Regions from separate parts of the Homo sapiens genome. Here region 1 is linked to region 2. Evidence: fine-mapped expression QTL. A gene starts in region 2. The other region holds a variant in brackets. All regions are shown on one strand. Distances are between the middles of the regions.

Region 1 (5,524 bases), 100 kb after region 2:
CCATTTCCAGGAACTGGGTGGACATACTGTACCTTGGGCCAAAGGAGTGGGGCCAGGCCTGTAAATAGACTCAACCCTTGTAGAAGCCATTTATAAGAAGTTGAGGTATTGTCAGTTTGGCCTAGGCTAGTGGTTCTCCACTTTGGGAAGGGGTGCTGGGGTAGAAAGATCAGATTTACCTCTTCAAACTATGCACGCTTGGCAGGGAGAGGCCTATCAAATTTTCTGCCCAGATAATTTTAATACACTCCCCCAGACTGACTGGCCCTCACTGAGTTGGAGTATGGGGCCCTACCTCCCTGGAATACAGTATGTTTTCTTTTGAGAACCTGTGGTGGATTCTGCGGTGCTCCCTAAGCTCACCCAGCCCCACCCTAGGAGCTTCACCTAGTGACAGTGTACACAGAGTCCTCCCCCAGCATTACCCTCCAGGGAAGGAACTTCCTTACCCAAGATTAAGCTGCCTGGTACATGCAAGTTTCTAATGAATAAAGGCCCAGCCCCCAGCCTCAATTTGGGATATGTATCTCTGAAAGGCCATCCCAGTTTCAGAGCTCCCTGGGGGACTAAGGCTTTTGTTTCAACTGCATCCCAGTTGACTTCTCCCTCCACCCTGTCCTGCTTCTCTCACTTCCTTGCAGGTGTTCTGAATGCCCTCCCCCAAAAACCTTCTGAATGCAAATCTGTCTCAGAGTCTGTTTCCCAGGGAACCTGATCCACGACAAACCCCCATCACACTGTCTTCCTCCTCCCCCATTCAGTATAACCTTCCCAATGCCCCTTATAAAGCACTCCAGAAGAGAAACATTTATAACTCTCAGAAATATGACAGATTCGTGGAAGACACATCACAGATACAAGAAGTCAACTATATCAATGTTTAGGTTAAAAAAATAAACTACTGAAATAAAAAGGACTCGTTGGAGATGGTTTAAAAATGAAGCAAAAAGCTTATAGATTAAAGAAACACATGTGAGATTAGGTAACATAGATGAGTTTTAAAATAAAAGACTAGCAGCTACAGTTTTTTTTTTAACTTCTATTTTAAGTTCAGGGGTACAAGTGCATGTTTGTTACAGAGGTAAGCTTGTGTCATGGGGGTTTGTCGTGCAGATTATTTCATCACCCAGGTATTAAGCCTAGTACTCATTAGTTGTTTTAAAAAGTAAAAAGAAATAAGAAATTGAGCTTTTAGATGAAAAGGTAAGACCTAGGATATGAAATGCTGAAAGCATACATACAGATAGGAGTTGAGAATTAGAAATAAAATTCAAGAACTAAAGGATAAAAAACGAATTTAGGAATGGCTTTAAAAATAAAAGCATTTCCTCAAATGGTTAAACATAGAATTACCATATGATCCAGCAATTTCACTTCTATGCCTATACCCCAAAGAATTAAAAGCAGGAGCTCAAACAGATACTTGTACACCCATGTTCACGGCAGCATTATTCACAATAGCTAAAAAGTGGAAGCAACCCAAATGTGGATGAGCAACATGTGGCATAACATACAATAGAATATATTATTCAGCCTTAAAATGAAGAAAATTCTGACATATGCTATAACATGGATGACGCTTAGAGATATTATGCTAAGTGAAATAAGCCAATCATAAAAAGATAAGTGTTTTATGATTCCATTTATATGAAGTACCTAGAGTAATGAAATTTACAGAGACAGAAAATAGAATGGTGGTTACCAGGGGCTGGGGGAGTGGGCAATGGTGAGTTAGTGTTTCATGTGTACACAGTTTCAGTCTGGAACCATGAAAAAGTTCTGGAGATGGATAGTGGTGATGCTTGTAAAACATTGTAAATGTAGGTAATGCCATGGAATTGTACCCTCAAGAATTATTAAAATGGTAAATTTTGCTATGTACATTTTACCACAATAAAGAATCACCCCCTCCCACCAAAAAAAACAAAAGTTCATAGATTAGAGGAAGAGAGAGAGAGAAGAGAGAGAGAGGAGAGAGAGAAGAGAGAGAGGTGAGAGAGAAGAGAGAGAGAGGAGAGAGAGAAGAGAGAGAGGTGAGAGAGAAGAGAGGAGAGAGAAGAGAGAGAGAGGAGAGAGAGAAGAGAGAGAGGTGAGAGAGAAGAGAGGAGAGAGGAGAGAGAGAGAGGAAAGGGAGAAAGAGAGGAGAGAGGAGAGATAGGAGAGAGAGGAGAGAGAGGAGAGATAGGAGAGAGAGGAGAGAGGAGAGAGAGAGAGAGAAAGAGAGAGAGAGAGAGAGACAAAGAGAAAGCCTAGCTAAGCTTGCCAGCTTTGGTTCTGAGCAGAACTGTGTGTGGTGGAGATGCAGTGCTCCTTCATGGAGGAGACAGAGACCAATACACGATGCCCCTACTCTCACCCGCCTATCATGTTCATGTTTCCGTCGAAGGCAAATTTTTCAGCTGGGTCTTCTAGCTACAGGGACCCTGCCTCCTGTGTTGGCCAGCCCCTCTGGAAACTTTTCAGGCATCTGCCATAATCCATGTTGACAAGGGAGAGACTCCTCAGGACAGAAATGAAGAGAGAGTCAAAGCCAAGATGGGTGGTTGTGACTTACCGACTTATTTTAACCAGCAAATTTGGGGGCAGTGGCTATTTTGAGCTGTGTCTGAAGGAAGTCTTTCCTGCACATAGGAATGCAAGTGTTGGCAGCCATCACTGTGGCTTCCTAACAATT[G/A]TTCCCTCTTTCCTGACATTCTTCCCATCCTGTAGTTCCAGCACTGAGAGTCCTTCCCACTGGGAGACTTGGGTTATGAAAATACTCCCAAAGAGGAAGCTGCTTTTCCAAGTATAGAGGAAGTGGAAAGGCAAGTGTGATCTGGATTCTACCTGGTTCTGTTCCCACATGAATGACTGCCAAGAGTTCCCACCCACTTGCAGCCAGTGCCAGAGTTTCTTTTCAGCCTCCAAAACTCTTGGTTTTCCAAGAAGTTATCCTAAATTAATTCTATTTATGATAGTCCATGATGACACATTAATCATTTGTTCACATCTTTATTCATTTGGCTAACTTTCATTCTACAAACATCTATTCAACAAATATTTATTGAGTGCCTAATATGTGCCACTGCACTGGGAACTATGTCAGGAAGCTTAGAGATTGATTCTAGCATGAACACTTTATTTTATAGTTGAGCATAAAGACCTAGAATTGCTCTATTCAATACAACAGCTACTGGCCACATGCGGCTATTTAAATTTGATTTAATTAAAATTAAAAAGTGGCCAGGCGTGGTGGCTCATGCCTGTAATCTCAGCACTTTGGGAGGCAGAGGTGGGTGGATCACCTGAGGTCAGGAGTTCCAGACCAGCCTGACCAACATGGTGAAACTATGTCTCTACTAAAAAATACAAAAATTAGCCAGAAACTGTGGCGGGTGCCTGTAATCCCAGCTACTAGGGAGGCTGAGGCAGGAGAATTGCTTGAACCTGGGAGGCGGAGGTTGCAGTGAGCCGAGATTGCGCCATTGCACTCCAGCCTCAGTGACAGAGCAAGACTTCATCTCAGGAAAAAAAAAAAATACAAAGTTAGTTTCTGAGTAACAGTCACATTTCAAGTTATCAATAGACTCATGACTACTGGCTGCCACGTTGGACAGTGCAGATCTAGAACATTTTCAGAAAGCTCTATTGGGCCACGATGGCTTAGAGAGTTAAGTAAATTGCCCTCGATCACATAGCCCTTCCAATCAAATTCTGTGAACAGCACAATTTTCTGTATCTTATGTTTCTACTAATTATATAAAAATGAAACTCATTTCTGTGTTGGACATCTCCTCCAGAAACTTCTCAAGCACCTGCCATAATCCATGTCGAGATGAGAAAGTGGGCCTGGTTGTAAACACCAAAATATTTGAAAGAAAATAGAAGAAAAATGGAGACACATGTACAGATATTTAAAAATTATACAGGTAGCTAACTCCAGCTAGAGTAAAATATCCACATGTCTGCCTGATTGTTTTTATTAACAAAACAAGACTTTTAAAATGTTGAAAGCATGGCTTCAATTCTTACCCTAGGCACCTGCCTCTAGTTTGATTGTGGAACCACCCCTTTGGCTTGAGGATTGAGGCAGACTGCTTCAGCAGTGGGTCTGCACAGGACTGTCTTGGATCTTGTTCTTTGCTCTGTATGTCCTGGGTGATTCCATGCCATTTCCAGGCATTAAAACCCATCGATAGGCAGATGATTCCCAAATATACATCTCTCTCCAGGCCTGCTAGCTCCTTGATCTCTGGATGACTTGGACTCTACACTTGGATGCCTAACAGTTATTTCAAGTCCACAAGTCCGAACATAACTCTTGATCTCACCCTGCCCTCAAACCTGCCCCTCCACCGTCTTGCCTTTCCCAACAAATGGTAACCCCTACATCAAGACATTCAAGTGAAAACCTACAGGTCATGCCGGATTCCTTCCTTTCCTTCATGTCACATTTCAAATCCTATTACCTCTACCTCTCAAATACATCCCCAACAAGTCTCTCCTTCTTTCCAGCTTCACCCCAGTGGTTCCAGACCAAGCCATCATCGTCTCTGCCTGGACTCCTCCAAAAGCCTCCTATACTCCATCCCTATACTCCATCCTTCCACTTTAGTAAGCTTCAAATCAATGGCCTACCTGGCCTTTGCCTTCAAAGTTAAAATGATAGGAAGTGAACAGCAATCACAAATAAGGATTAAGTTAGATTTAAAAGCAACTTCCTGTCAAATAGTGATGTGTGTGTGTGCGCACACGTGTGTGCACAGGGAGGTGGGTATTGACTGAGAAGAAGCATGAGGGAAACTTCTGGGCTGCTAGAAATGTTCTATATCTTGATCTAGGTGTTGGTTATGTGGGTGCATATATATATGCATATAAATTATACTTTAATTTTTAAAAGTTAAAAAAATAAAGAAAAGGAAAGGAAAGGACTTCTTGCCAAGATTTTAAAGACAGTTTGGCAGCACATAAAGGGATGTTGTGGAATCTACTTTCTTGGCTTCCTTTCAGAATAGGATGGGAGTCCTAGCTGCCTGGGGGTGTTCAGTGCCTAGAATTAAAGAGATATAATCAGAAATCACATTTGTTCTGCTTAATTCTACCCTTGGCCCTGTGTTAGATGCATCATGATGAATATTTAATGTGTCACTTAACATTTCATCACAGAAGAGTATTTAAGGACATTATGAATAATTAATATGCTGGGTGGAGGGATGTTTGAGAGTACCCAGCCTGGGTCACTTTTCACTGTGGAGCCAAATTACTGTGGGATTCTTTGGGGTCAAAAGCAGTCACCATTTGCCAGGCCTTTCCTGGATGTGTCCAAATACCACTGTGTCCTTCAGCTTCAGAAATAAGGCAGCCTAAAGCAAACCAGACTGTGATAAAAGGATGTGTTGTAAATTTACATTTATGGAGGAACACAGCAACACAGTCTGTGGCGCCTTAGAGAAGCCAAATTGACTCATGGCTTTCCTTTTCTCTCTACCCACTGACCAGCAATGGGAGACCCTGACCAACTGTCTGGCAAGCAGCTGAGTAGGCA
Region 2 (5,000 bases):
AATCTTCTTGTGATACTGCCGAAGCTTATCTCTCAGATGCATTAGGAAATTTTTTGTTTCTCTCAGCAACACTGAAAACATCTGTTTCTAGACTTTGATAGTTGTTGGGGCTGGGACATATGCACAGAACTTCACAGGAATCTGTTAGTCTAATGCTTTAGAAATGCTTAGCAAGCCCGAAAGAATTAAACTAATTAGTCAGATCAGGACATCTTGGGCATTTCCCTTTATTCAAAGTTGTAGAGACACTTAAAATTCCGGGAAAGGGGATTCAAATAGGAATTTAAGTCAAAAACCAAATAACTCATGGTGGGTTTACAAGTCATTATTCTAGTTAGACTCTTCATCCACATATCTACAGGGTAGGCAACCGAAATACATATTCAATAAATAACGTTGAAAGGTCCATCAAACCGAAGCATCATTTACTACGAATTGATGTGCTTAGGAAAGAAACAACTGCCTTTAAAATTCTGAGGTTAAACAGTTACTCTAACTGTTCTTTAGTTTCATTTCCTCCCAGGATGTACTGCTCTTTTTTAAATAGGGCGTGTACTAGAAATGAAGTTTAACGTAAGTCTGTTGTTTACAATGTTAAGAGAGAGAGGGTAAGAGGGAAAAGGAGAGCTGAGAGAATGCAGCCCACTTGCAAAACAGGCACCTGTTTCAGTATGAAGCAGCAGGGAGAGGGAGAATGAAGTGTGCTTTCCACTTCTTCAGGTCCTTTCCTTGATGAATGGTCTGGAAATGTATAAAACAAGGGCATAGGCAGACCAAGGGGGCACGTTCCACACAATACTGAGCACAGCATGTCACTTGTATCACATATTAAACATCGGTGAATATCTTTTTGATGTTGACACAAGAGTTGGGATTATTGTTCGTGGTGCAGGTGGCAGTGGAATTGCCCGTTTTGAAAGGGGTCTGGGGGAAAGCGCTATGGTTCATACCCCCCTCTTCGATCACCATATACTCCGACTTACTCAGAGTCGAGTTACTCCTTGCTTTTCGGAGCTCCTCGGCTGAAGAGGAGAGGTGCTGGCAACTTCCCACGTGCATGTACTGGGATTGCTCTTCCCCTTCTGTCTCCCGGTGGTAGAAGTAATTGAAGTTGGAAACAATCACGGGAACTGGCAATGCGATGGTCAAGACACCGGCGATGGCACAGAGAGATCCCACAATCTTGCCCCCTATGGTCACTGGGTGCATATCGCCGTAACCCACTGTTGTCATGGTTACCACTGCCCACCAGAAGGCATCCGGGATGCTGCTGAAACCTGAAGTGGGGTCGTCTGCCTCGGCAAAGTAGACCGCGCTGGAGAAAAGGATGACCCCAATAAAGAGGAAGAAGATGAGCAATCCCAGCTCCCGCATGGACGCCTTCAGCGTTTGCCCGAGGATCTGCAGCCCCTTGGAGTGGCGCGACAGCTTGAAGATGCGGAAGACCCTTACCAGGCGGATGACCCTCAGGATGGCCAGAGACATGGCCTGCTGTCCATTGCCCTGTCGTTCGGCCAGCTCGGTACCCAGAGTGATAAAATAAGGAATGATGGCCACAATGTCGATCAGGTTCATGATGTTTCGCGAGAAGGTGGCTTTGCTAGGACAAGCGAAGAACCGCACCAGCAGTTCGAAGGAGAACCAGATGATGCACAGCGTCTCCACCACGAAGAAGGGATCGGAGAAGCTGGAGGCTCCTGCGCGGGACCCCGACGTGCTGTTGCCGGCTGCTTCGAATGAGTCCTGCGACGTCGAGGCGGGGTAGTCCTTCTCGTCGCGGAACTCCGGCAGCGTCTCCAGGCAGAAGATGACAATGGAGATGAGGATGACCAGCACGGACACGATGGCGATGCCCCGGGCCGGCCCGGAGCTCTCGGGGTACTCGAAGAGCAGCCACACCTGGCGCTGGAAGTCGCGGCGGGGCAAGGGCCGCTCCTCCTCCCGCAGGAAGCCCTCGTCCTCGCGGAACTTCTCCATGGCCTCCTCGCCCAGCTGGTAGAAGCGGATCTCCTCGGAGAAAATGTCGATGGGCACGTTGACCGGCCGGCGGATGCGGCCCCCGGACTGATAGTAGTAGAGGATGGCGTCGAAGCTGGGCCGGTTGCGGTCGAAGAAGTACTCGTTGCGGAGCGGGTCGAAGTACCTCATGCGCCGCTTGGGGTCGCCCAGCAGCGTCTCGGGGAACTGGCAAAGGGTCTTCAGCTGCGTCTCGAAGCGCAGCCCGGAGATGTTGATGACCACGCGCTCCCCGCAGCAGTCCTGCTCGCCCGCGGCCGGCAGTGAGGGCGGCAGCGGCTCGTAGCGGTCGCAGCCGCCGCCGCCACAGCCGCCTTGAGGCGGGGCCCCTCCACCATCGGCCACCTCCGGCTCCAGCAGGTGGTCCCCGGGCACCACGGTCATGTCGGGCGGCAGCTCGCGGCCTGCGGCGGGCTCCGCGTAGCCGTGGTTCACCAGCGTGTGGGCACCGCCGCTGCTCGCTGGGCGCTGAGGAGGGTGGGCGCGGTGGCGGGCTGAGGGCGGCGGCGGCGAGCGCAGAAGGCTGAGGCGCTCGTCCATGCGGCGGGGAAGAGGCGGCAGCGGTGAGGCCAGGTCGCTCCTCCTCGCGCTCCCCGCCCTTTCGCCGCCTCCGCCCCCGAGCCGAGCCCACCGCCTGTTGCAGCCAAAGCCGCGATGCTCTGTCTGGGTCTGGCGCGGTCAGCCGGGCTCCCGCACGGGGACGCCTCCTCCCTCCTTCTCGCGCTCTCCGCCCCCTCCCCTGCGGGGCGCGCGCCCGCCTCCGCGTCCCCTTAGGATTCCCGCCCACCGCGCGGGCGCGCGTCCCGCTCTCGGGGGCAGCCGCCGGGCCTGCATTTCTTGCAGCCCTCAAGGCCCCTCGGTGTCAGCGAAAGAGCCCTCATGTTGTACCTCGGCGCCCCGCGGGAATGCCCACCCAGCAGAGCCGGCCCACGGGGAGTCAGGCTGCCGGCCCGGGCCCCTAGGCTCCGCCCGCTTCTGGTCAGCGCCCCTCGCCCCCGGCCCGCCTGGCCGCGTCCCAGTCGCCAGGGTTTTCGGCCCGTGGGCCGGGAGAGCTCCCGCCGCGGCCCCGCGGGCGCCGGCCCCCTGGCCTCCACACCCCTAGGTACAGCCCGGGGAGGGCAGGCGGGCCCAGTGTCCAGGGAGGGAGTGCAGGCCAGGCGGGCGCCCTGGGCCAGAGGCAAGCCTGGCGCCGGCATCCCAGGTTCCCTTGAGGGTCGAGGACCGCCAAACCCTGGGGAGGAGCGGGGGTTTAAACAATTTAGCTTCTGCTAGGATGCGAAGCCAAAGGGAGTAATGGGTGCTGATGGGCTTCGCAAACGGAGTCCGAAGGAAATGGATTGTTAAAGGCGTTCGGGCCCTGCTGCTTTAGTGAATAGTTCACACCCGTTTTCGCAGCGGAGATGTCGGCCACTGGGAAGAATCAAGGACCAAGTTTCTGATTGGGATTAGCAGTGACAGCCTGGTCTTTATCCACTACACAGGTTTCCTGTTGGCGGGGAAATAAGAGGAAAAATGGGAAAGGAAATTCACGAAGTCGAAGTTGTGTGGTTAGAAAGTCCAGCTTTATGACTCAAGCCTGTCGTGGAAGGGATGAGAGCAGGACCTGTACCTAGACTTTTTACTTAATATTTTGGCACTGCCCTTGTGGTAGGGAATTTGCAGCGCTCTAGTTGTTAAACTGGAAGGACATTCATTCTGCAACTTGTACCTCTTGCTTGATCTGGGCCCAGAGATAACTTACATGTATCTTCTTTAAACTTATTTTTCCAAATTATTGTGGTTACTTTGAACACAATTTGTTTCCAGAAATTTTAGCAATCTAATATAACTCAACCCTAGGCTTTAAAAAGTCTGTTTTTTATTGTATCATTCAAATCATTTACAGAAGAGGAACTATTGTCTAGACAGCTCCTCACCCACCCAAAGTTAGCTGACAATTCAATTTTAAGTAAGTGATTTGTGGTCAATACTTCCCACCACCACTCCCAACCATGGGGTTCTCTAGGGCACAGAGTAGGTCCTAGCCAACTTATATTTCTAGCAACTACCAAAGTGCCTTGTAAATGGTGGAGACTTGGTACATACTTGTCAGATTGAATTCCCCAAGGAGTGTCTCTTTGCGTTGCTATCTGCTCTGGAGTTTCAACATTTCTTCTTTTTGAGCCCAAGATGCTGCTGTGATTCCTAGGATGAGGAGTGAGGAAAAACTGAGCTCACCATAGAAAACACTGCTCATTTATTCCATAGGATTTCCACCTCCGGCTCTCCTGGGCACAACAGGCACCCATGTCCTTTTATTGTCCCTTCATCTTCCGTTTCACCTCCTGGTCAGTGCCAGACAATGCAGGCAGTCACTTATGTTGTGGAATGGCAAAACTGGGCAACCACGTAAAACTCTTTCTCTTACAAAACTCCAGAACACTGGAATGTGACAGCCACCTCATTATTTTGCGTATATATTTTGAGCTGGTGATTAGAGTAGCAGTATAATCAATCATTCATATATTTAAATCTTAGAATGAGACAGACTGCTTGCTGCAATGATAGCTCATGGAAAGGCAAAGACCCTATTTTTAAAGACCAGATGTTTCATGTACTTCTATGTCTGACTTAGAAAATGATTTATTCCTTCTTTTGCAGGAATTAGTACTGAAATTAATATTAATCAATGGCAAGGAAGACCAGAGCAGAGGATAGTCCTGTGACAAATGGTCACAAGCTTCTCCCAGCTGTGAAATGTCTTTCCTTCATAAGTGACTATTTCCATTCCCTTTCATGTATTTGCCTTGTCTGGAAGACTTTGATTATGTGCTTCTTAGGACACATATAAAGTCCTTACTTTGTATTTGGGGCCCAGAGAAGTTTAGCAATTTGCTTAAGCTCACATAGCTAGTTAGCAGCAGAGCTGGGCCTAAAATCTTGGACCATTTCCAAATCCAGTGTTTGCTTTACTGTATCACACTGTGCAACGCTTGTGTTGATCA

Direction of the effects. Positions count from the first base shown, and alleles are read on the strand shown. Sizes are in standard deviations (SD) of each study's normalised expression.
In carriers of allele G in region 1, the expression in thyroid of the gene that starts at base 2,687 in region 2 tends to be higher than with A alone (small effect, 0.26 SD a copy in GTEx).

The links. PIP is the estimated chance that this variant, and not a neighbour inherited with it, causes the effect.
Region 1: its variant is fine-mapped to the expression of KCNA3 in thyroid (GTEx, PIP 0.96).

What each region holds. Positions count from the first base shown.
Region 1 is chr1:110,771,833-110,777,356 of GRCh38, forward strand. LOC105378901 (a long non-coding RNA gene) reads right to left here and starts at 2,512. Exons shown (of 3, transcript XR_001737801.2): 1 at 2,357-2,512. The variant G/A (reference allele first, on the strand shown) is at 2,675.
Region 2 is chr1:110,672,254-110,677,253 of GRCh38, forward strand. KCNA3 (potassium voltage-gated channel subfamily A member 3) reads right to left here and starts at 2,687. Exons shown (of 1, transcript NM_002232.5): 1 at 212-2,687. The coding sequence starts at 2,556. The coding sequence ends at 829. RefSeq lists silencers at 2,423-2,522, 2,633-2,682, 2,753-2,812.